Linked DNA regions of Homo sapiens: regions 1, 2, 3 and 4 are each linked to region 5. Evidence: fine-mapped QTL for protein levels in blood plasma. A gene starts in region 5. Each other region holds a variant in brackets. All regions are shown on one strand. Distances are from middle to middle.

The links. PIP is the posterior inclusion probability: the model's chance that the variant is causal. The UK Biobank Pharma Proteomics Project read protein levels with antibody pairs (Olink). The fine-mapping took linkage between variants from a reference panel, not from the people measured, so its PIPs are less certain.
Region 1: its variant is fine-mapped to the plasma level of the MPO protein (UK Biobank, PIP above 0.99).
Region 2: its variant is fine-mapped to the plasma level of the MPO protein (UK Biobank, PIP above 0.99).
Region 3: its variant is fine-mapped to the plasma level of the MPO protein (UK Biobank, PIP 0.96).
Region 4: its variant is fine-mapped to the plasma level of the MPO protein (UK Biobank, PIP 0.98).

What each region holds. Positions count from the first base shown.
Region 1 is chr17:58,370,400-58,375,399 of GRCh38, reverse strand. RNF43 (ring finger protein 43) reads left to right here. Exons shown (of 10, transcript NM_017763.6): 3 at 4,367-4,489. Among named protein-coding and RNA genes, the nearest start is that of SUPT4H1, 21 kb to the right of the region's middle. The variant C/T (reference allele first, on the strand shown) is at 2,561.
Region 2 is chr17:58,307,928-58,311,363 of GRCh38, reverse strand. TSPOAP1 (TSPO associated protein 1) reads left to right here. Exons shown (of 32, transcript NM_004758.4): 19 at 151-528; 20 at 613-852; 21 at 1,206-1,397; 22 at 1,984-2,823; 23 at 3,423-3,436. Among named protein-coding and RNA genes, the nearest start is that of TSPOAP1-AS1, 16 kb to the left of the region's middle. RefSeq lists an enhancer at 1,130-1,829. The variant G/A (reference allele first, on the strand shown) is at 3,152.
Region 3 is chr17:60,662,258-60,667,435 of GRCh38, reverse strand. PPM1D (protein phosphatase, Mg2+/Mn2+ dependent 1D) reads right to left here. Exons shown (of 6, transcript NM_003620.4): 6 at 1,156-4,441. The coding sequence ends at 3,884. It also overlaps the pseudogene RNU6-623P. Among named protein-coding and RNA genes, the nearest start is that of BCAS3, 13 kb to the left of the region's middle. The variant T/G (reference allele first, on the strand shown) is at 2,260.
Region 4 is chr17:58,297,808-58,302,985 of GRCh38, reverse strand. It overlaps TSPOAP1 (TSPO associated protein 1), which reads left to right. Exons shown (of 32, transcript NM_004758.4): 32 at 539-1,755. Among named protein-coding and RNA genes, the nearest start is that of MPO, 19 kb to the right of the region's middle. RefSeq lists an enhancer at 1-611. The variant C/G (reference allele first, on the strand shown) is at 2,880.
Region 5 is chr17:58,278,911-58,284,077 of GRCh38, reverse strand. It overlaps MPO (myeloperoxidase), which reads left to right and starts at 3,143. Exons shown (of 12, transcript NM_000250.2): 1 at 3,143-3,473; 2 at 3,619-3,712; 3 at 4,064-4,239; 4 at 4,432-4,555; 5 at 4,652-4,781; 6 at 4,864-5,070. The coding sequence starts at 3,320. RefSeq lists promoters at 1,863-2,063, 2,109-2,334, 2,219-2,620, 3,013-3,153, 2,559-3,153 and enhancers at 2,193-2,210, 4,795-5,167.

The DNA of each region.
Region 1 (5,000 bases), 91 kb before region 5:
ACAAGTTATTATTTCTGGAACATAGGTCGCAAGGTGGGAAGAGATATAGGATGGGAATGTTAAGCCATGAGGCAGGGCCCAGACCAGGCAGAGCCTTTTCAGCTATGTTTAAGAGTACAGACTTTATTTCAGGAGCTATGAGGAGCCTTGTAAGAGCTGCAAGTAGAAGAGTAACGTGCTCAAGTTAGCATTTTAGACCACTTTGGCTGCAATATAGAGAACGAATGGGATGAAGTGACCCTAGGGAGTAGGTTATTTCGGTAAATAGGGTTGGCAGTGATGGTGGCCTGTATTACAATAGCGATAGTGAGAATGGAAGAAAGAATAAAATAAGACAAATATTTAGGAGGTAGAATTGTTAGAATTTGGCGATTGATTGGATATTGGTGGTTAGAGTGGGGGTGAAGGAGATGGAGGCTAGGAGGACAGCATCTTGCTTGGGTAATAGATGGATGATGGTTCCAATCCCAGAGACAGCAAACACTGGAGGAGCAGTTTTGGGGATAGAATGAGTTCAGTCTTGAGCATGCTGAGTTTGAGGTGTTCTACTTAAGATTATTAAGGTAGAAACGTCCAGGGTTAGACATAAGGGTCTGGAGCTCAAGAGAAGACCAAACTGTACATATGTAATCACTGACCTCTGTGTGGGCACCGTAGCCATGGGATTGGCTGCTGTCACCCAGAGAAGTCATCAAGAGTGAAAAGAGGGGGCCAGACACGGTGGCTCATGCCTGTAATCCCAGCACTGTAGGAGGCCGAGGCAGGCAGATCATGAGGTCAGGAGTTCAAGACCAACCTGGCCAACATAGTGAAACCCCATCTCTACTAAAAATACAAAAATTAGCCAGACATGGTGGCGGGCGCCTGTAGTCCCAGCTACTTGGGAGGCTGAGGCAGGAGAATTGCTTGAACCCAGGAGGTGGAGGTTGCAGCAAGCCAAGATTGCACCACTGCACTCCAGCCTGGGTGACACAGCGAGACTCTGTCTCAAAAAAAAAAAAAAAAGAAGAGTGAAAAGAGAGGAGGGTCTAAGAATCCCGGGGGTCACCATCAACATTTTAGGGACTTGTATTTGGGTCCTTATGCTTTAGTAAGATAAATTTTCTTAGTAAATGAGTTCGGGGAAGGTATCATGTTTTCAAAATAAAATGTAAATTGTTCTTAAATATTTTTTTAACCTTATCCTACTACTACTTTCCTTTTTTTTTCTAATCTCTACCACTTACTAGCTGTGTAATCTTGGGCATGTTATTTAACCTTTTAGTGCCTCAGTTTCCTCATCTTTAAAATGGGAACAATAACAATCTCTACCTGATAGTGTTGTTATGAGGATGAAAAGAGTTAATATGAAAAAGTGCATAGAACAATCACTGGCCCACAGTATTTACCCAATAAATATAAACTGTACTGTCCCCATCCTGACTATCATTAGCATGGAGATGGATGGAGGGTTGCTGGATGGAGGGTTCATTTGGAGCTCCATGGCTCCGACAATGGAGTCAGGCAGAGTTGAGTTCAAATCTTGTGTGACCTTGATTTCTCTCAGCCTCAAGCTTCTCTTCTTTAAGTGGCTATGATAGGGGTAGTGGGGAGATGGAGATGGTTAATGGGTTTTAAAAAAAAAGTTAAAATGAATGAATAAGGCCTAGTATTTGATAGTACAATGGGGTGACTATAGTCAACAATAATTTTATTGTACATTTAAAAATAACTAAAAGAGTATAATTGAATTGTTTGTAATACAAGGGATTAATGCTTGAGGAGATGGATATTCCATTCTCCATGATGTGATTATTACACATTGCATGCCTATATCAAAACATATCATGTATCCCATAAATATATACACCTACTATGTGCACATAAAAATTAAATAATTGTTTTTAAAAATGGCTATAACACCTACCTTATGGTGAAATAATGTCTAAAAGCTCTGGCACACAAGAGGCCTTTATTGATGTTTAATTTCCTTCCATTCCTTCTTCCATAGTTGTTAATTCGGAACCAGGCAAGTTTGGTGGCTCATACCAGGTTTTTTTTCCCTTCCACCTTGTCAGAGGTATCCTACAATGCAGCACTGAGCTGTAGATGCTGGTTCCCTGTTCAAACCTGGGGAAGAGTGCTGTTTAAATATCTGCAGACACACTGTAGGAACTTCTCCAAAGTGACTTTCCTCTCCCAGGCGACCCTCTGGTCAGTGAGCGGCATCTTGGAGTCATCAGGAGAAGGCTGGACCATGTGGGGAGGGTCGAGGAGCAAGCAGAGCAGAACCTTCTGTGGCTGCGATTTGTCCTTCCTCAGGGAAGGCCTCCATCTTCTGCTCTGGTGGAGCAGCTGCCTTCAGATTCCCCACCACACCAGAGTCTCCTCCACAGTCTTCAGAGAAATTGGTCTCCAGTGCAAATCTGTGGTCTCAGCTCTGTGGCCTGACTCTTGCAGATCCTTCCAGCCTTATGTCCTGCCTTCCCTTTCGTGCCAGACCTCACTGCCCACAGTCTACCTCAGCCTCGTGCTAGGCCTCTGTTCCTTGGTGCAGTGGCTTCCTCTGCCAGGAATGTGG[C/T]TCCCCAACCCCGCTCCCTTTCATTGGTCCCTGAGGTGAACACATACCTAGTTAGCCTTCCAGGTAGCTCTCCAGTCACCTCTTGTGAAAACTGCTCTGCTTCCCATATGTATTGTTAGCTGCCCCTCTTTGTGCCCTCCCATAGGCCCCTTGCATTGTAACATCACGATGTGTTTGCATGCTTGTCTTTTGAGCTGCTTTAAGGCAAGGAGCCTCTCTTACTCATCATTAGCTCCTCACTGCATTGGACAGAGCCTGACACCAAGGGGGCCTTCCGTGCTGGCAGAACAAAGAAATGAATGGATGCATGGACAGATAGAGAGACTAATGCAGCTTGTTGAGACAGGGGCTACAGCTTCACTGATGTAAGAACAACTCCACCCTCATGCCCCAGCCTTTTTCTTGGGGCAGGGGCACATGATAACCTTTCTCCCACACTAAACCTTGCTCACTACCAGACTAGTAGGCCTTAAACTCTGGGAGCAAGAATGGAACTCCTTCCTATCTCAACACCCCCTGCCCAGAGATTTTGATTCAAAGCAAGGTAGTAGATAGTTATTGAGAACCTACTATGTTCAAGGGACCGCGGTGACACAGTGAGAGGAAATAGCCTGAAAGAGCTTTCAGAAAGTGTGCTTTTAAATCCATCATTGACATTATCTTCATAAACATCTTTATAAATTCAAGATTCTCTGTGGTTCCTCTGATGGTTCTTTCTGGAAGTCCTTCAGACATCAACAGTAGTAGAGGGGGAAGTGTGGGCAGCTCTCTAATAAGAAATCTCTTTCTTGCCAGGATATGTGGGGTTTCTACTATATAGGAGTCCCTGGACCATAGGATTATTCAGGGCCAAATAAGTCATACTTTGTTCTCATTGCACTCTGACATTTTGTTTAGGGAAAATTAGATTCAAATGGGTGTACAAATCGCTGTGAATGAGAAGAGAGAGTAAGGTGGTCTCACCCCTTTGATGAGGAGAGCCTCAGATTTCTGTCAGCACGTTCTCCTTTAGTCATTGTTCAGCACCAGCTGGGCTCAGAGGCACAGGGTCTTGGACAGGATCTGCCCTTAGAGCAGATGGGCTGGGCTGGCTCCACCTCCACGGCATCATTCCTGGGACCAGGGTGAGCTGTCAAAGCTTATGTCTTAGCCAAGCCTCATTGCAAGATAGTCTCACCTCTCTGTCAACACCATGCTTGATCCCAGGATGGGTACAGGGCAGAGGCAAAAAAGGGGCTAGTGAGAGAAGCAAGGTAGCACCGAGTGAGATGACCCAGCCTCCTGAGAAATGGGAATCTACAGGGCAACAGTTGCCTGGGGGCATCCCGAGGAGGCAGGAGGCACCAGCAGCATCCAGCACTGCCCATGGGCATTCTGAAAGCACTGATGCAGGCACACATGGATATTCTCTTAGCCTGGGGCTTGGGGAGCAGGTAGAAGGATCAGGAGGTAGAGAGGCTGGGGCCAGGAGAGGAGCCCTCTGCGTCTGGCCAGTTTAGAGAAGTAGGATTGTTGGAGTTGAAGGTTGTTAGAGTTGCTTTGCAGCAAGCTCTTCATTTAGGTCCCCTCTGGGACACCCTCTCCCTCCTATCTGCCTCCACTACCTGTGTCCTTGGCCCCAGCATCCTGAAGTGACAAACAGTGGTCACTAGCTTACTAAGAGGCAATCCAATCATAAGGCCTACTCTTTTACAGCACCAAGAGACCTGCCTGGTACCTCCCTAGAAAAATGGAGAGGTATATGGCTCTCACAGCTCACTCCTGCTGCCTAAAGCCTCCCTAACCCAAGTCTGTCTCTCTCTGCAGTCCCACCCGCTGTACCTGTGCAATGCCAGTGATGACGACAATCTGGAGCCTGGATTCATCAGCATCGTCAAGCTGGAGAGTCCTCGACGGGCCCCCCGCCCCTGCCTGTCACTGGCTAGCAAGGTAGACTCACACTTCGCCCTACACACACCCGGAGCTTCACCCAGCTCTGGGCTGTGAGAAGACCCTGTGCTCTCTTGTCCCCATGTTTCCTAAGAGTGATGTACCTGATTCCCTTGGGTTTCCCTAACCCATGACTGGTCTGAGAGAAGTGGAAATTCACACCTCTGTTTTTTCTCCTCCGACTAGCACCAGCAGGACTTTTTGACCTTCATCCCAGCATGCTCCCCATCCCACCTCCTTCCCATCACTTGGGAGTTCCTGAGTCCCTTCCCCTGCTCTGCACCAGAGCAAAGAAGGGGTCAATTGAAGGGATTTCCATCTTTTAGAAACATACACTGAGCACTGTGCAAGAACAGCAGAAATAGAAACCATTGCCCCACCCTTAAAAAGTTCACACTTTTCCCCTGAGGTTGCAAACTGGTGGCCCATAAGCTGGGTTTGGCTTGCAGACATGTTGTGTTTAACCCTCACAGCGACTTTTCAATGTGTATATTAATTGCCACATTTAAAA
Region 2 (3,436 bases), 28 kb before region 5:
AATGAGATAGGCCATGCAGAGGGCTTAGCACAGTACCTGGCGTAATGCTAGCTGCCACTGCTGTCAGTTAGCTGCCACTGCTGTCAGTGCATCCTCACGCTTGGCTGTCTCAGCCTCTGCTTCCCATCCTGTGCCCCCTCCACCCTGCAGATCATGGAGGTGGCCTCACCCACGGCAGGCAGTGTACTGGTGGAGTTGTCCCAGCTGCAGCTGCTGCAGGTGTGTCGTGAGGTGGTCGTGCGCACCATGTCGCCCCACGGGGAGTCGGCGGACTCCATCCCGGCTCCTATCACTCCCGCCCTGGCTCCGGCCAGCCTGCCAGCCCGAGTCTCCTGCCCCTCACCGCACCCAAGCCCAGAGGCCAGAGCGCCCCTTGCTTCAGCCTCCCCAGGGCCTGGAGACCCCAGCTCTCCTCTCCAGCACCCTGCTCCCCTTGGAACTCAAGAGCCTCCAGGAGCACCCCCTGCAAGCCCTTCCAGAGAGATGGCAAAAGGGTCCCACGAGGACCCTCCAGCACCTTGCTCCCAGGTACCCTGTCTGGGGAGAGGGGAGCAGGTGCAGGCTGGCAGAGGGACCTGGGCTTGGGTCCTTCCTCAGTGCTCTCTGTTCCAGGAGGAGGCTGGGGCAGCAGTGCTGGGCACCTCAGAGGAGAGGACAGCCAGCACATCTACCCTGGGTGAGAAGGACCCTGGCCCCGCAGCTCCCTCACTGGCCAAGCAGGAGGCCGAGTGGACTGCAGGAGAGGCCTGTCCGGCCTCCAGCTCCACCCAGGGAGCACGGGCCCAGCAGGCGCCAAATACCGAGATGTGCCAAGGAGGAGACCCAGGGTCTGGGCTGAGGCCCAGGGCTGAGGTAGGGGTTTGGGGACACACTGTGTCACTTCAGAGAATTGAGGCCTGTCTCCCTACCTTTTGCCAGCGCAAATCCAGTTGCCCTCTCTGCCTGTCCTCTGCTCTGGTCCTGCTCTCACACCTTTGGCTGTGCTATGTGTCTGTTTTTCTTCTAGGATTTCTCTGTCCCATGTGGCTCCCATCTCCCTTCTCCCACCCTGCCCCTGAGCCATGGTGTGCCTCCCCCATTTAGGACATGGCTCTTTCTCCCTCTGCCAAAGGACCCTTGTTACTGTGGCTGGGGCTGACCCTGCCTGGAACCCCCTGTGCCCCCTCACTGTCCTTATCTCTCCTGCCTTGCCTCACTTCTTGCAGAAGGAGGACACAGCAGAGCTTGGGGTTCATCTGGTGAACTCCCTCGTGGACCACGGCCGCAACTCAGACCTGTCAGACATCCAGGAGGAAGAGGAAGAGGAGGAGGAGGAGGAGGAAGAGGAGCTGGGTTCCAGGACTTGCTCCTTCCAGAAGCAGGTTGCTGGCAACAGCATCAGGGAGAATGGGGCCAAGGTAACGGGGTAGGGATGGGCTGTTGGGCCCCAGGCCTCAAACTCCGGGGCCTCCCCACTGTGTGTCAGCAGGTGCTCTGACCACCACTGAGTGCCAGAAACATTCTAGGTCTGTGGCCTGGGCCCTGTCCTAAGCAGAAGATAGGAAGTGCCCCAGGATTGGCCCCTGCCCTCCTGGAAAGAAAGGGGAAGGGGAGGAGTTCATTTCTGTACCTTCTCTCCCTCCAGCCCACCAGATACAGCGCCCTGGCCAGGGGAGGCCGGTGCCACCTAAGATCCTTGTGCTGGTAGCTTCTGGGGAGGGGATGGGGAGGCCTGCTCCTCAATGCTCCTGTCCCACAGGGGCTGGTGATGGTTCCTAGAGTGTGTTCCCTAATTCTTCCTTTGGCTCTCACTGGATATGTGTGTGAATTTGGGCCAGCCACCGTCCCTCTGGTTCTCTCCTCTCGGAGGAAGCCGTGGGAGGGCTGTGGGGTTGTCCGTAACCCCTGCCTTCGTTTGAGGGCAAAGATCGCAGCTCGCTCTCCTCTTCCCCACGCATCTCTCTTCCCTGCTGTGTTCTACTCCCACCTCCCCACCTCCACCAGTCCCAGCCCGACCCCTTTTGTGAGACTGACAGCGATGAGGAGATCTTGGAGCAGATCCTGGAGCTGCCCCTCCAGCAGTTCTGTAGCAAGAAGCTCTTTAGCATCCCGGAGGAGGAGGAAGAGGAAGAGGAGGACGAGGAGGAGGAGAAGTCAGGGGCAGGCTGTTCTTCCCGAGACCCTGGCCCGCCTGAACCTGCATTGCTGGGGCTGGGCTGTGACAGTGGTCAGCCCCGAAGACCTGGCCAGTGTCCCTTGTCTCCTGAGTCCTCCAGGGCTGGAGACTGCCTGGAAGACATGCCTGGATTAGTTGGTGGAAGCAGCCGGAGGAGAGGAGGGGGCTCCCCTGAGAAGCCCCCAAGCCGCAGGCGGCCTCCAGATCCCCGAGAACACTGCAGCCGACTTCTCAGCAACAATGGGCCCCAGGCCTCTGGACGACTGGGCCCCACACGGGAGAGGGGTGGCCTCCCCGTAATTGAGGGCCCCAGGACTGGACTAGAGGCTAGCGGGAGAGGCCGGCTGGGCCCTTCCCGGAGGTGCTCCCGTGGCCGGGCGCTGGAGCCTGGCCTGGCCAGCTGCCTTTCCCCCAAGTGCTTGGAAATCAGCATTGAATATGATTCGGAGGATGAGCAGGAGGCGGGCAGCGGGGGCATCAGCATCACCAGCTCCTGCTACCCTGGAGATGGGGAGGCCTGGGGCACAGCAACTGTAGGAAGGCCCAGGGGGCCTCCGAAGGCCAATTCAGGCCCCAAGCCCTACCCACGCCTCCCAGCCTGGGAGAAAGGGGAACCAGAGCGGAGAGGCCGCAGTGCGACGGGCAGAGCCAAGGAGCCACTCTCCCGGGTCCGTGCTCACTCCCCGCCCTGGGCAGCCCCTGCCTGCTGCCACCTGGTGGCCCTGCTTGCTGCCCACCAGCAGCTCCCATTCCACGCTGCCTGCCTCCATCAGCAGAGGTGGGGCCGGGCCTCCGGGCTCCCTCACCTGCCTCCTCCCACCCACATTCCACTGCTTTGCTGCTTCTGCTGATCAGGACTGGGATGCACAATATTCTATCACTAGTCGCCTGTTGCGGCCTGTGGGCAGGGTCGCCCTTTCCTCTGCATAGCTAGTAATGGCTTCAGGACGCTGACTGTGATGCCATGTCCAGGGTTACCTGCCCTGATGCTGACGG[G/A]AGGCCCTCCTCTCGCGGGCTCCTCAGCCAACTCCAGTCCCCTCTACTCCATTCATCTACTCGCAGGCTGGGGCTGGGGCCTCCCCTCCTGCCCTCCCTCCCACTGTGGGGGTGTCTGAGGTCTCCAGCAGGCTGGGCCGAGGCTCCGGGAGAGGAATGCTGTGCTCCTGCGCTGCTGTGCTGCTTACGCTGATGGGGCAGAGCTGGGGGAGCACGAGCCCACCAGAGGGATGGTGTGTTACTTTTGCCATCTGTTGCCCTCTTTTTGCAGGCAACAGAGACCGG
Region 3 (5,178 bases), 2.4 Mb before region 5:
ATTTTTTTTTTAGCACCACATTCTTCTCTGTTTCCATTTGTTTTTGTTTTTTTGTTTTTGTTTTTGCAACGAAGTCTCACTTTGTCACCTAGGCTGGAGTGCAGTGGTACATTCTCAGCTCACTGCAACCTCTGCCTCCCAGGTTCAAGCAATTCTCCTGCCTTAGCCTCCCAAGTAGCTGGGATTACAGGTGTGTGCCACCGCGCCCAGCTAATTTTTGTATGTTTAGTAGAGATGGGGTTTCACCATGTTGGCCAGGCTGGTCTCAAACTCCTGACCTCAGGTGATCCCCCCACCTCAGCCTCCCAAAGAGCTGGGATTACAGGCATGAGCCACCGCACCCGACCTGTTTTCATTTTGTTATTTTGTGTTTTGTGTAAGAGACAGGGCCTAACTATGCTGTCCAGGCTGGAGTCCAATAGCTATTCACAGGTGTGATCATCGCACACTATAGCCTGGAACTCTTGGGCTCAAGCAATCCTCCCACCGCAGCTTCCTGAGTAGCTAGGACTACAGGAATGCACCACCATACCCAGCTTGCTTTCTTTTAACTTTTTTTCCTTTTGCTAAAACTTTTGTTACTTTTATTATTTATTTTTGAGGCAGTGTCTCACTCTGTTGCCCAGGCTGGTGTGCAGTGGTGTGATCACGGCTCACTGAAGCCTCAACCCCCTGGGCCCAAGTGATCCTCCTACCTCAGACTCCAGAGTAGCTGGGACTACAGGCACATGCCACCACACCTGGCTAGTAACGTTCCTACATTCCACTTTTAGTCATAGAACATTGATTCTAAGTAGTCTATAAGTGTATGTACATTGTAATCCCTAATGCAACCACTAATACTGCCTAAATATTTTGTCTCTAAGATTAAAATTTGCCTAGCACTTTGGGAGGCCGAGGCAGGAGGATCACTTGAGGCCAGGAATTTAAGACCAGCCTGAGCAACACAGTGAGACCTTGTCTCTAAGGAAATTTTTAAAATCCACCAGGTGTGGTGATATGCACCTGTAGTCCCAGCTACTCAGGAAGCTGAGATGGGAGGATCACTTGAACCCAGGAGTTAAAGGTTACAGTGACCTATGATTTTGCCACTGCACTCCACATCAGCCTGGGGACAGTGAGACCCTGTTAAAAAAAAAAAAAATTATTCTCAACTTTGTTAGTGAGATAGTTTATTTAGGGACAAAATACATTAAGATGTTTTACTCCACTAGAGCAATCTTCCAGATGTCTGGAAGATGAAAATAACATTGTTCATTAATGCTATTACCAAAACATAACTATTGCACACCCTACTAAAACAATGTTATACACGCTGTATTTCAGAATATCAATGCTTTTAACTTCCAGGTTGTGACAGCCTCCTTCCAGATGACACTTAAAAATGCCCACCTCCTAGAATTCATGCCTTGTGTAGGAGTCTCCCACGTTGTAGTTGACTTGGTCTGTGTGACCAACAAAATACAGAATTGGTATGACACTTTCAGAGGCTAGGTTACAAAAAACATCATGGCTTCTTCCTTGCCCTCCGGTGTTGCTTGCTCTGGGGACAAATAACTGCCATGTTGTGAGAGGCCCTCTGGAGGGGAACATGTGGCAACAAACTGAGGTCTCCTGCCAACAGCTGTGAGTCTTGCGGGAAGCAGATCTTCTAGCCCCAATGACACCTTCGAAAGATTGTAGCCCTGGTTGGTAGCTTGACCAAAACCACGAGACTATCACCCAGCTAAACCACTCTCAGATTTCTGAGGCTCAGAAACTGGAGATAATATTTGTTGTTTTAAACTGCTAAATTTCGAGATATTGTTTTGTAGCAATGAATACATATTTTAATCCTTGTGGCATAAGACACACCGATCAAGAATTATCTTCTGCAAAATATTGAAAATAACCAGAATGTGTGGACATGGTTAAATAATGGCATAGTTGGCTGGGCACGGTGGCTCACACCTGTAATCCCAGCACTTTGGGAGGCCTAGGCTGGTGGATCATGAGGTCAAGAGATCAAGACCATCTTGGCCAACATGATGAAAACCCATCTCTACTAAAAATACAAAACTTAGCCAGGCATGGTGGCACGCACCTGTAGTTCCAGCTACTCAGGAGGCTGAGACATGAAAATCACTTGAACTGAAATGTAAGAAATACATTGAAAGCATAAAACTCAGGCCGGATGCGGTGGCTCACGCCTGTAATCCCAGTACTTTGGGAGGTCGAGGCGGGTGGATCACGAGGTCAGGAGATCAAGACCAGCATGAC[T/G]GACATGTGAAACCCCATCTCTACTAAAAATACAAAAATTGGCTGGGCACAGTGGCGCGTGCCTGTAATCTCAGCTACTCAGGAGGCTGAGGCAGGAGAATCGCAGGAACCCAGAAGGCAGAGGTTGCAGGGAGCCGAGATCACACCACTGCACTCCAGCCTGGATGACAGAGCTAGACTCCATCTCAAAAAAAAAAAAAAAAATTAGCCGGGTGTGGTGGCACACACCTGTAATCCCAGCTTCTGGGGAGAGAGATTGAGGCAGGAGAATCACTTGAACCCGGGAGGCAGAGGTTGCAGTCAGCCGAGATCACGCCACTGCACTCTAGCCTGGATGACAGAGTGAGACTCCATCTCAAACAAACAAACAAAATAATAAATAAATAAAATACACTCACTGTAAAGCATGATCATGGCACAACAGAATGTTAATCCAGGTTAAGCATCCCTAATCTGAAAATCCAAAATCCAAAATGCTCCAGAATCAGAAACTTTTTCAGAGCAGGCATGATGCTCAAAGGAAATGCTCATTAGAGCATTTTGAATTTCAGATTGGGAACACTCAAAAGCTCAGTATAAAGCAAATATTCCAAAATTTTAAAAAATCTGAAACACTTCTGGTCCCAAGCATTTTGGATAAGGGATACTCAACTTGTACATACCATTAAAATAAACCAACAACTACAAATTCAGCAACATGAGGAACAGTTCACTGATTTATTAGATGAATATATACCCATATAATCAATGAAAACTGTATGATATAAAATAATTTAAGAAATGTTGGGAATTAGCAGCACCATCTGTTATTGAAATAGCAAGGAAAACTTCACATATTTTAAGCAAACACGAGAAGGGAGTAACTACTTTAAGACCTAATAATGCCATTGGTCTGGGATGAAAAAGAAGGGAATTGTTTTAGATTGTTTTAGGCAAACACACTTCCTTCTATGCTGAAGATTTAGTAAGCATATCTGATGACTAAGGTTTTAGAAAAATGCTACTGATGTAAGAGATACTGCATAGTATTTTAATTGGGACAAGACTAACTGTAGCATGGCTCAACACTTCTATGAAAAATTTAGTTCTGAATTATGAAATCAGAAATAAAAAATAATGTTTAAAAGACACTTGGCTCTAAGAAACATTAAGTGAAACACAGGTCACTATGAAAATACATCACTTTTCCAGTCTGCTTAATAATTTACTTTAAAAAGTTGCACAGTTTTCAAGACAAGTGGCTTATACAAATTTTTTAATAAGTATTTTAAAAAGTTTAAATGTTTTTCTAAAATCTAATAGATTCTTTTGATTTCTTTAAACATTTAGCCCTATTGTCACAATTACTGTGTATCAGAGACTCTGAATACTGTGTATTCAGAGACTGAATTTGTGTGGATACAAATTTACACAAATTTTACAGCAACTTATACCCTAACATCTACAAAATCCACATTTACAATACAAGCAAGTACAAGGCCAGGATAAAACTGCTGAATTCCAAAAAGTCAAACTGTATATTTCTTTTAATTTTCTCCCCTTAAAAAAAGTTCAACATCGGCACCAAATTTAAAAAGCCCTCTTATATCCTAAGTTTGGAAAAACCTCATTTCCCAGATGCATTTCAGCAAACACAAACAGTTTTCCTGTGTTGATGAAGTAAAGGATTTCCAATTTTCTTCTGGCCCCTAAGTCTGCGTCGCATGGTGAGTTTAACAGAGTTCTTTCGCTGTGAGGTTGTGGGGAGACTTGCAGGCTGAGCACCACTACTTCGACTTAAGCCATTTCGTCTATGCTTCTTCATCAGGGGGCCAGAATTGGACTCTTCTAATGTCCTTTTAAAGTTTGTTGGAGGGGTTCTTTCAATTTCTTGGGCTTTCATTTGGCCAGGAGTTGACATCTTCAAATTTTTTTGGTCCATGACAGTGTTTGTTGAATTAGTAGGCACAAGGCCAATTGGAAGGCTATTATTCAAAGAATCATGTATCCTTAAAGTCAGGGCTTTAGCGCAATTTTCTTCAAGTGGTTCTGGATCTTTTGAGGGTATGACTACACCTTGGACATTCTCTCGAGCTATCTCAGCTGAAACCTCTAAAAAATTCTCTGAGAAGGCATTGCTACGAACCAGGGCAGGTATATGGTCCTTAGAATTCACCCTTGGCCATGGATCCTCCTCCAGTGACTGAAAAATAAGAAGGTAAAACAAATAAGAAAAAATTTATCCCAGAACTCAACAAATCTATGCATGTGATATTAGGCTTCTTATGAAGCTAGTAGGATGGCAAAAACGGGGTATGCATTCACTAATTCGTTCACCTTCTATTTACTGAACTATGTGTTAAGGTTTAATGGGAGGAACCTGAGTGAGAAGACAATATAAAGGTAAGAATGACATTGAATTCTGTCTTCAGGGTAATAGATGAAATTATAAAGTAATCTATTCAAGTGGGTGAAAATTCACGTGGTCACAAGCATTTTCTATCCATTGGCAGGTAAACAAAAATAAGATACATTAAGGAACAAGATTTCAAAACAAACCCTCAAAATTAACCATAGGCACACATTCACTCTTCCACTATTCTGTACTCAAACATGGAGAAGATCAAAAGTATCGCATTCTCTGTGTGCATTTTAATTTACTTTTGGTAATAACATAATGCTGATGAAATCGCTCTATTTTTCATAAAAGTCATATTTTTCCATAAGAACCATCAAAAAATTGCTTTAAGATGCCATTAAGTGCTTACTACAGCAGCACATATACTAAAATTGGAATGATACAAAGAAGATTAGCATGGCCCCTGTGCAAAGATGACACAAATTCATGAAGCGTTCCCTATTTCAAAAAAGAAAAAAAAGCTTTTAAAGATCTCAATTTTTGGCCGGGCACACTGGCTAACCCCTGTAATCCCAGCACTT
Region 4 (5,178 bases), 19 kb before region 5:
CCTCCCCATGGAGTGGGTACTGGCTCCACACCCTGAAGGCCTGGGGGGGCCACATCTGCTGGGTTTGGGGAGACGCTCTTTCTGTCTATGAGGGGCTGTAGAAGCTACCTTCCTGGGCAGTGACAGCTGCTTCTAAGCAGTCCTTGTCCTTGCGCTCCATGTTTTTGGAGGGAGGTGACATGTGAGAAGTTGGGGGCACCCATCCTGAGGGGCAGGTTCCAAGAACTCTTGGGCCCTGTCAGCCCTGCACCCTGGAGGGAGAAGGGAAGGGGCCTGCCCAGGGTCACAGGTGAGCGATCCAGAACCGAGACTGCATCCCCTGGGACTCCCAGCTTAGTGCTCCCTCGGCATCACCCTCCCCATTCACCACCTGTGCTGTGTGTTTCTGACAGTGGTGGGAGGTGAGGCCCTGGTTCTCAGCGTCAGCCATGGTTCTGTGACATGGGAGGCTGCAGGCCCCTTAGGCTGTGGAAAAAATGGGTCAGGGGGTCAGGAGGGAATCAGGCCCTGACCTTGCTCCTTCTGTCTCACATTTCAGGACTGGGGCTGCACCACACAAGGGTCCCCAGGGCCCCCAGGTGGGCCTTGTACCCCCAGCTCTGGCAGCGCCCCCAGGATTGAACGTGGGGAGCCCCAGGGCAGAAGCGAGAAGGTGTGGGGTTTCTTCTCCAAGGGGAAGCAGCTCCTCAGGAGGCTGGGCTCTGGGAAGAAGGAGTGAAGCTGTGGCCCATCCTGCAGGCAGAAGAGGCCCTGAGAGGCCCCCAGATCACTGTCTCTGCTGAGCAGGGAAGGCTCAGACTGGGCCCAGAGCCCCCGTTCTTCTGCGTTAACACTGTGGCATTCAGAGGGAATCAAAGAGCCTTGGTGAAGGTCAGAGCTAAATGGCTCCTTAAGGATGAACTCTCTAGAGAAGCACCTTCCTCCTACAGGAGGGGAAACTGAGCCCACAGTGAGTATGTAACTTGACCAAGGTCACTGAGCCAGGACTGGACCCAGGACCCTCGCGTCCTGGTCCACCCACCTCGTCTACTAGTGTCCCACAGTGCTGCGCTAGTCCCTTCTGCCACCCTTCCCAGTCCCAGGACGGGCCCTGGAGGGAGAAAGGAGCCTGTGCCCCCTGATGGCTCTGGCTGTCCTGATCCTGTCTTCCCTCCCCTGAAGGAAAGTTTGCACTGGATTTTATTGGAGCCCCATCTCCCCAGCGGGCAGGCGGGCGGAGCCTGTATATATGTATATACTCAGTGCCTCAGTTCAGCTTCCTCCACCTCGCTTCCACTGCACAGGCCCAGGAAGGAGAAAGGCCAAGCCAAAGTGGGCCCCACCCTGCCCCCGTCGTGCTCCATCCTTCCCTGCCGGGGCCTGCTGGCCCCTGTAAGGTCCCGCCCCCAAAGACCCTGGGGCCAGCGGGGCCGAAAGCGGAGTTGGGTTTGCCTTATTTTGCTCATTGGATTCAAGTTCTTTTGCATAGTTTTCTTCTAACCCCTGTTGGAGTCCAGGGGCTGGAGAAAAGGACAGATTTATGCAGCTATTTTCATACATTCCCTGTTCAGAGTGGGGTAGGGGTTCTCCGCCGTTACCCGATCCACTCCATCCCCCACCCTCTGAGGGGTGAGTGTGTCTTTGCATGTTTCCTTTGCTGTGGTGGGAGATAGTTTGACTGAACCCCCACCTTGACCTTGGTCTCCAGGGGTGTGGAATGGTGGGGGAATTTGTTTAAAAAGACATTTTATTATAATAAAGTCTATTTTCACAAAATCTATGCTGGACTCTCCATGGGCAAAGGACTCCTTGGAGGGGTGGGGCAGCTGGGCTTTGGACTCTGGACTTCAGACCCCAGAAGTTACATCCTAAGGCTAACAGGGGCAAAAACCAATCAACACCACGAGCTTTTGAATCCTTTTCCTAAGAAGGTGGTTTGGTAGCTTCCTGAGCCCGTGGTCACAGGGTCAGATATTTGCTACTGGGGCTGGGGTTGTGGAGGAAGATGGGACAGACGGGAAACACACAGAGGGAAAGCACCAGTTTCAAGATGGTGGACTGAACACACACTGCAGTCTTTCTCCTCTATACCAAATGCACAGAAATAATAGACATGAGAGAAATAGAACAAATAAACACTATACACAGTTCCATTTGAAAGCAAGAAAGGGGACTCTCAGTAGACTAAAAACAACAGGATTCTGGAAAAGACAAGAACAGATGGCAGATCATACTGAGAAACTTGAGAGTAGGGTATATGTGGGAGAGCTCTGCACGTTGCCTCTGGACTAGAGGCAGTGCAAACAGGGCAGAAGAGACCCTAGGGGCTACCGATGGTGTGGTTAGTTGGGGTTTTTCTTTGAATGATTGTTGCACATTCTCCTTCTGCCATGGGCCAAGGGCAAAGGTGAAGATGTCTGCCTTTAGATGACAGACTTAGAGAACAGTAAGGGTTGCAGCTTGGATCAGAGACCAGGTGGTACTTTAGGTGGCTGGCCGCACCTGGCAGAAACAAGATGTATCACCGCCCAGGTGAGAAGCCACCAAACCGCAGCATACTGTGACCCTTCCCTCTCAACCAAAACCCTCAGAATCATGGCAGCAGTTCCCACCCAGCCGTCCAGCAAAGACTCCCAACCACAATGGCAAGAACAGAGTAAAGACTCAAAAAATATTTGAGGAAAGCCAACTTCACTAAGAGAGATAACAAATGGAAATGGAAAAATATACATAAGTCAGTAAAGCATTAGGAGAAAACTTTAAAAAGTCTACAGTTATTGTTGGAGAAATAAAGGAAGGAATTACATATGGGAAACAAGATCAAGTAGTTATGAAAGTGATCCTAATAGAGATCTTGCAAAAAATACATATATTCTTGTTAAAAAAGGACTCAATATATG[C/G]GTGAAGAGCATATAATTCATAGTTGGATACAATTAGTAAGCTTGAATTTTGAGGTAAGTAATTCCCTCAGAGTGCTGTACAAAGGGATAAAAGAGATGAGCAAAATGAAAGAAAAGTTATACATGGAGGATGGGGTCAAATGTTTCAATACCTATTCATAAGAATACCCTGGGGTTGGGAAGATGTGGGGAGAAATAGAGACCATGAGTGATAGAACAAATAATGGCTATAAATTTTCTAGGACTGAAGAAAGACACAGATACTTAGATTCAAAGGACTCACTGCATGTGAAGCTGATAAATAGATTACAAGTACAGAAAAAAAAAGAGAAGCAATCCAATTCAATGTTTGAGACTTGAATAATCTTGTCACCCAATCTAGAACAGGACAAGAAAACATTATGACAGATCTATCTGGTTTATGAACACAGAATATCCTAAATATAGCTTTAGGAAATTAAATATACATCATGGCTGTAGCATTTTTAATTTTGTTTTTTTTTTTTTTTTGAGACAGGGTCTCGCTCTGTCACCTAGGCAGGAGTACAGTGGCATGATCACAGCTCACTGCAGCCTTGACTTCCTGGGCACAAATGATCTTCTCACCTCAGCCTCCTGAGTAGCTGGGAGTATAGGCACATGCCACCATGCCCAACTAATTTAAAAACAATTTTTAAGAGATGGAGTCTTGCTATGTTACCCAGGCTGGTCTTGAACTCCTGGCCTCAAGTGATTCTCTTGCCTTGGCCTTCTAAACTGTTGGGATTACAGACATGAGCCACTGTACCTGGCCTGTAGCATTTATCTTAATAAGGCAAAAGTGTTTCACCATTTTATTATTAAATTGATTAATTCTATTATTCTATGTTAATAGAATTCACTACTTTAACAGATCAAAGGAGAAAAATCACATGCTCACTTCAAGATGTTGAAAAATCATTTGATAAGTGAAAGCATCCTTTCATAGTTTCTAAATATATAGCAGATAAGAAAAATAAGGAAATTGGGTGGAATCTTATCTGCATGTACCCCATTTGCACTGCAGCTGTGGGACCCTGGAAGACAGCCTACTCTGGGTTTTATACCTCAGGAGCATCAGGACTCTCTGGGATAAAGCCTTGAAGGACATCTGTCTTCTGTTGGGGGACTGGAAGAGAGCCCAGGCTGTTCTGGTCAGTTCCTCCCTATCTCAGGATGTTGTATTCCCAGCAAATTTTACAGTCATTCTTGATAACTACAAACAACAAAGGGGAAGAACTGGGTTGGTCTAAGGCTACCTGGAGAACTGTCCTGCAAAGAAAAAATCTAGGATGAAGAAATACGATTGAGTTTTGTATACTGATTTTGTATCCTGCAACCTTGCTAAACTCACTTATTAGTTCTAGTAGCTTTTTTCTCGGTTATTCTTTGGAATTTTTAAAGCAATTTGTTATCTGGGAATGGAGACAGTTTTATTTCTTCCTTTACAATTTGTATGACATTAATTTTTTTCCTTGCCTATTGCACTGGCCAGGACCTCCTGTACAATGTTGACTAGAAGTGGTGAAAACAGATATCCTTGCTTTGTTCCTAATCTTAGGGGGAAGGCATTCAATTGTTCACCATTAAGAATGATTTTCATTGAGTTTTTCTGTTTTGTTTTTATAGATGCCCTTTGTCAGGCAGAGAAAGTTCCTTTTGTTTTTTCCTAGATTGCAGAGAGGTTTTATCAAAACTGGATGTTAAATTTTGTCAAATGTTTGTTCTGCATCTATTAAGATGATCAAATGTCTTTTTTTTCTTTACGCTGTTGATAAGCTGAATTAAATTGATTTTTCAAAAGTTGAAATAGATTTGTACTCCCAGGATAAACCCCATTTGTTATGATTTTTTTATATTGCTGAATTCAATTTGCTACTCTTTTGTTGAGGAATTTTGCATGTGTTTTCATGAGTTATCTTGTTCTGTAGTATTCTTTTATTGTAATGTCCATGTCAGGTTTTAATATCAGAATACAGTTAGCCTCATAAAATGAGGTGGAAAGTTTCTATGACATTCTATATCATGGAAGAGATTGTGTAGAACTAGCATTATATCTCCCTTTTTTTTTTTTTTTTTTTTTTGAGACGGAGTTTTGCTCTGTCGCCCAGGCTGGAGTGCAATGGTGCGGTCTTGGCTCACTGCAACCTCCACCTCCCAGGTTTAAGCGATTCTCCTGCCACAGTCTCTTGAGTAGCTTTGATTATAGGCATGTGCCACCACACCCGGCTAATTTTTGTATTTTTAGTAGAGACAGGGTTTCACCATGTTGACCAGGCTG
Region 5 (5,167 bases):
CTCCCTGTGTTGGAACTGAGTGAAGCCGACAGTGTCATTCTCTGGGCCCAGAATGCTCTTCCTCTGTGTCTACTTGGTCAGCTTTGAGACATTCTTCAAGACAGTCTCCAGAATCAATTCCTCAAGAAAGCCTTCACTGACCTCCCCCAGTTGATCCAAGTGCTGCTCTTCGCTGCTCCCTAAGGTCCCTGCATTGGTTCTGGGGGTGCCATTTGTTTGCCTTTCTGCTCCCCTCTGTGAGCTCCTTGAGGATAAGGCTCATGCTTTGCTCAGTGGAGAATGCTCAATGCCCAGCGCAGCACCTGACAAGGGCTCAGTAAATACTTGTTGAAGGAATCATTGAATGACAAGGGCTCAGTAAATACTTGTTGAAGAAATCATTGAATGAAAGGTCAGGAACAGGTGTCCAGAGGCTACTGGGTAAAGAGCACTGGTTTGGAAGTCAGGAGACTGGGCATGGAGATTATTCTGAACTGTGTCACACTGCTGACCTTGGTCAAGTCGTTTCCTTCCCTGGGCTCCTTCTTTCTCAGCTCTACAATAAGGGGCTTGCATTAAATATCTCTCCCCTGTTGAGCCTTGACAATTCCCTTAAAAGAGCGAAAGGACACTCAAGCATACTCAAGGTTGACAAGGGTGACAGGGGACAGGTGCTCTCATGCATGGCTGATGGGAGGATGAGGTAAAATCTTCAGCAGGCCATTTGACTATCAATATTAAAAAGCCCTAAAACACGCATACCCAAATACGCAGGAATTTTACTTCTTGCCTAAGGAAATAATTGACGATGTGGCGAGAGATTTAACTCCATGGATGCTTATCCTAGTACTACTTATAATAATGAAAATCAGAAACAACTCTAAGTATCTAATGAGATAGAATTAGTTAATAAATCATATAAAATAGTTATATGAAATATTATACAGACATAAAAATGAAGTAAACCTGTATTTATTGACACAGGGAGATGCTCAGACTAAAATTGTTAAGTACCGAAAGTAGATGGTAAAACAATATTTAAAGTTCTTCTTATCAATATTTAAAAATATATATTATGTTTACATATAGGATATCAAATTCTTAAATGAGGTATTGGTGAGTGGTGGGATTATGGGCAATTATTTTCCTTCCTATTGTTTATTTATGTGAAGACAATGATAAACCTTGAAAGAAAAAAGTACCCACAATCTCACTTGATGATGAGTAATTTTGATTTATTTTTATTTTTGCATACTCGTGTTCTCAAACTTTTCATCAGTGAAAATTATATTACTTAAAGGATTGAAAAATCATTTCCAAAAGCCTCTAAAATTCTAGAGCTTGATTCACAAAGAGCCACTCGACCAACTTCACACACAGCAAGTCACTGGCAGGGCAAAAGCTTGGTTCCCCTTCTCAGCAGGGGACAGAATCCCTGGACACACTGGGAAGATATTCTGGGTGTTGCTGTCCCTTGTCCCTTGGCCAAGAGGTGGTCTGGGCATAGAAGACAAGAGTGGGCCGGGCGCGGTGGCTCACGCCTGTAATCCCAACAGTGGGTGGATCAGGAGGAGGTCAGGAGTTTGAGACCAGCCTGGCCAACATGTTGAAACCCCATCTCTACTAAAAATACAAAATATTAGCCGGGCATGGTGGCGGGCGCCTGTAATCCCAGCTACTTGGGAGGCTGAGGCAGGAGAATTGCTTGAACCCAGGAGGCAGAGGTTGCAGTGAGCCGAGATTGCACCACTGTACTCCAGCTCCGCCAACAGTGAGAGACCCTGTCTCAAAAAAAAAAAAAAAAAAAAAGAGTGGGTGGCGGGAAGGTGGCTGAAGGTAGGAGGGGGAACCTAAATGGGACATGGGAGGCATGGTTGGCACGAGCTCAGCCTGACCAGGGCCCAGAGAGGTAGACTGATTCAGTCAAAAGTCGTAGTACTTTTCCTGCTGAGATTGGTGGCCCTTTTGCTGGGCTTTCTCAAGCAAGAAATATCCTCTTCTGTTTCAGAATTATTCTGAATCATTAACCCAAGTCCTCCCAACTGCACTGATCCTGTCCCAGAGAGGCCCTGGGCTGCATCACCTAACTGATCACTAACCACAACCAGTTCTGCTCTCTCCTGGTTCCTGAAATCCAGGAGCAGATGGTGGTGGGGAGGAGGAGTTTGGAGACAGCCCTCTACCAGAAGCCAAGAAGAAAGGGGAGTGAGGAGGGATAGAGGAAGTTATCTTGGTCCTGCGCCCACAGTCCCCAGGGTCCTCCTTCCTGTGAAGCCCAACGGTCTCCAGCCAGATTTCCTGTCCCCTTAGCCCCACCAAGAACCAGAGGCTGCCCATTGGGTGGCTGTTGGATGCAGGTTACTGTTGGAGTGGGGGATGGCCACCTGAGGCCAATTGGGTCATCTTTACTCCAGGTCTCCCTTTCATCCTCCTGTCTTCCCTGGGGGCACTCTATTCCCTGCAATTCCTTGGGCTACCAGTTCCTGACTTTTGTTCCTTTCAAAGGAACCCTGGATAACCAGTGTAACCAGAATTTCAGAGGGGTTAGTTGTGTGTATCCCCTGGGGACAAGCACTGGTATAGGCACACAATGGTGAGCTGAGAAATCTTGGGCTGGTAGTGCTAAATTCAAAGGCTGGGGACAGGCTGGGGCCAGTGGCTCATGCCTGTAATCCCAGCACTTTGGGAGGCTGAGGCGGGTGGATCACTTGAGGTCAGGAGTTCAAGACCAGCCTGGCCAACATGGTGAAACCCTGTATCTACTAAAAATACAAAAATTAGCTTCTTGCCTAAGGAAAAATACAAAAATTACTTCTTGCCTAAGGAAATAATTGATGATGTGGCTAGAGGCTAGGGCGTGGTGGCGGGCACCTGTAATCCCAGCTACTCGGGAGGCTGAGGCAGAAGAATCGCTTGAACCATTGCACATCAGCCTGGGCAACAGAGCAAGATAACGTCTCAAAAAAAAAAAAAAAAAAGGCTGGGGACAATGCTGGCCCCTCCTTTCCTGCCCCTTCCCCCCATTTCAGGGGCCCCTCTGTGTGTACCTTCCAACCCCAGTGGGGGAGGAGAAAGAGTTCAGTCTCCAGGATCAGACCTTCCTCTACCTCACCCCACCCCCAGCTTAGAGGACATAAAAGCGCAGATTGAGCTAAGAGGAGCTGACAATATCAGGTGAGCTGTGGAGGTGGGGTCCTTGGAAGCTGGATGACAGCAGCTGGCAAGGGGATAAGAGAGCAGTGAGCCCCTCCCTCAAGGAGGTCTGGCTTTATCCATAGACAGGGCCCTCTGAGGTGGGGCTGAGGTACAAAGGGGGATTGAGCAGCCCAGGAGAAGAGAGATGGGGGTTCCCTTCTTCTCTTCTCTCAGATGCATGGTGGACTTAGGACCTTGCTGGGCTGGGGGTCTCACTGCAGAGATGAAGCTGCTTCTGGCCCTAGCAGGGCTCCTGGCCATTCTGGCCACGCCCCAGCCCTCTGAAGGTGCTGCTCCAGGTAACAGTTCCCAAGGTGGGAGAAGATGGTGTGTTGGGGTGGTTGTGTTCCAGAGACCCCTTTTCTCAGAGCAGGCCTTCCTAGCTCTGGGGCCTGATAGGGGGTTGGGGCCCATTCCTGACTTTGTGATCCCTGCTCTGGGCAGCTGTCCTGGGGGAGGTGGACACCTCGTTGGTGCTGAGCTCCATGGAGGAGGCCAAGCAGCTGGTGGACAAGGCCTACAAGGAGCGGCGGGAAAGGTGGGGCACGAGGCACTGCCCAGCTCTGGGCAAGGATGTCCCAGGCCTTTCAGAGAAGCAGCAGGCAGCAGGGAGCTTGAAGGTGGGAGAGGGGGACTATGGGGACCCATGTGGACTCCCTTTCTGTCTGTCTGTCCCTGTGTTTCTGGATGGGAGAACAGCTTAAAAGCCATCCTTCCCAAAGCCTTGCCTCTGTCTGGACACCCAGGTCCATATCCTTTTTATAAAAGGAAGCCTTCCTCCCACCCGTGGGCCTGCCTGCATGGTCCTGCATGTCTGCCCCTGGGCTGGGGCTCTGCTGGGTGGGTCTGTATCCCTTCTCTGGCCCTCACTCCTCCTTTCTCCAAGCAGCATCAAGCAGCGGCTTCGCAGCGGCTCAGCCAGCCCCATGGAACTCCTATCCTACTTCAAGCAGCCGGTGGCAGCCACCAGGACGGCGGTGAGGGCCGCTGACTACCTGCACGTGGCTCTAGACCTGCTGGAGAGGAAGCTGCGGTCCCTGTGGCGAAGGCCATTCAATGTCACTGGTACTGTTGCCCATCACACCCCAGGTCCCTGCTCCACTAGTGACTCCTCCTAGGGACCCCAGCCGTCTCTCAGTGATCCCCTCAACTTCTTCCTCCAGGGAGTCTCAGGAGTCTCCAGGGCTCCTCAGCCTCAGGTTGCCTGGGATAGGAAGTGAGGCGGCTCAGCTCCCCCATTGTTCTTTCCCCCGGCAGATGTGCTGACGCCCGCCCAGCTGAATGTGTTGTCCAAGTCAAGCGGCTGCGCCTACCAGGACGTGGGGGTGACTTGCCCGGAGCAGGACAAATACCGCACCATCACCGGGATGTGCAACAACAGGTGCGGCTGGCTGGGGGTGGCTGCAGGAACCGGGCTCAGAGAGGCGTCCCGGACGCCACAAGCCTCCCGGTGTCAGCGCCCTGTCCTCCCCTGCAGACGCAGCCCCACGCTGGGGGCCTCCAACCGTGCCTTTGTGCGCTGGCTGCCGGCGGAGTATGAGGACGGCTTCTCTCTTCCCTACGGCTGGACGCCCGGGGTCAAGCGCAACGGCTTCCCGGTGGCTCTGGTGAGCGCCGGCGGGCAGAGGGGGCGAGGCCCGGCCACGCGGTGCGCGGACCCAGGCGCCAGCTGATCTCCGTGTCCCGCAGGCTCGCGCGGTCTCCAACGAGATCGTGCGCTTCCCCACTGATCAGCTGACTCCGGACCAGGAGCGCTCACTCATGTTCATGCAATGGGGCCAGCTGTTGGACCACGACCTCGACTTCACCCCTGAGCCGGCCGCCCGGGCCTCCTTCGTCACTGGCGTCAACTGCGAGACCAGCTGCGTTCAGCAGCCGCCCTGCTTCCCGCTCAAGGTGGCCCTGCTTCCCGCCCACTGCCTGGGTTGGGAGAGGGGAGATTGTTTCTGGAAGGGGCCATCTCCCTTCTGTGCCCAGGTTTCCTTTCCCAGAC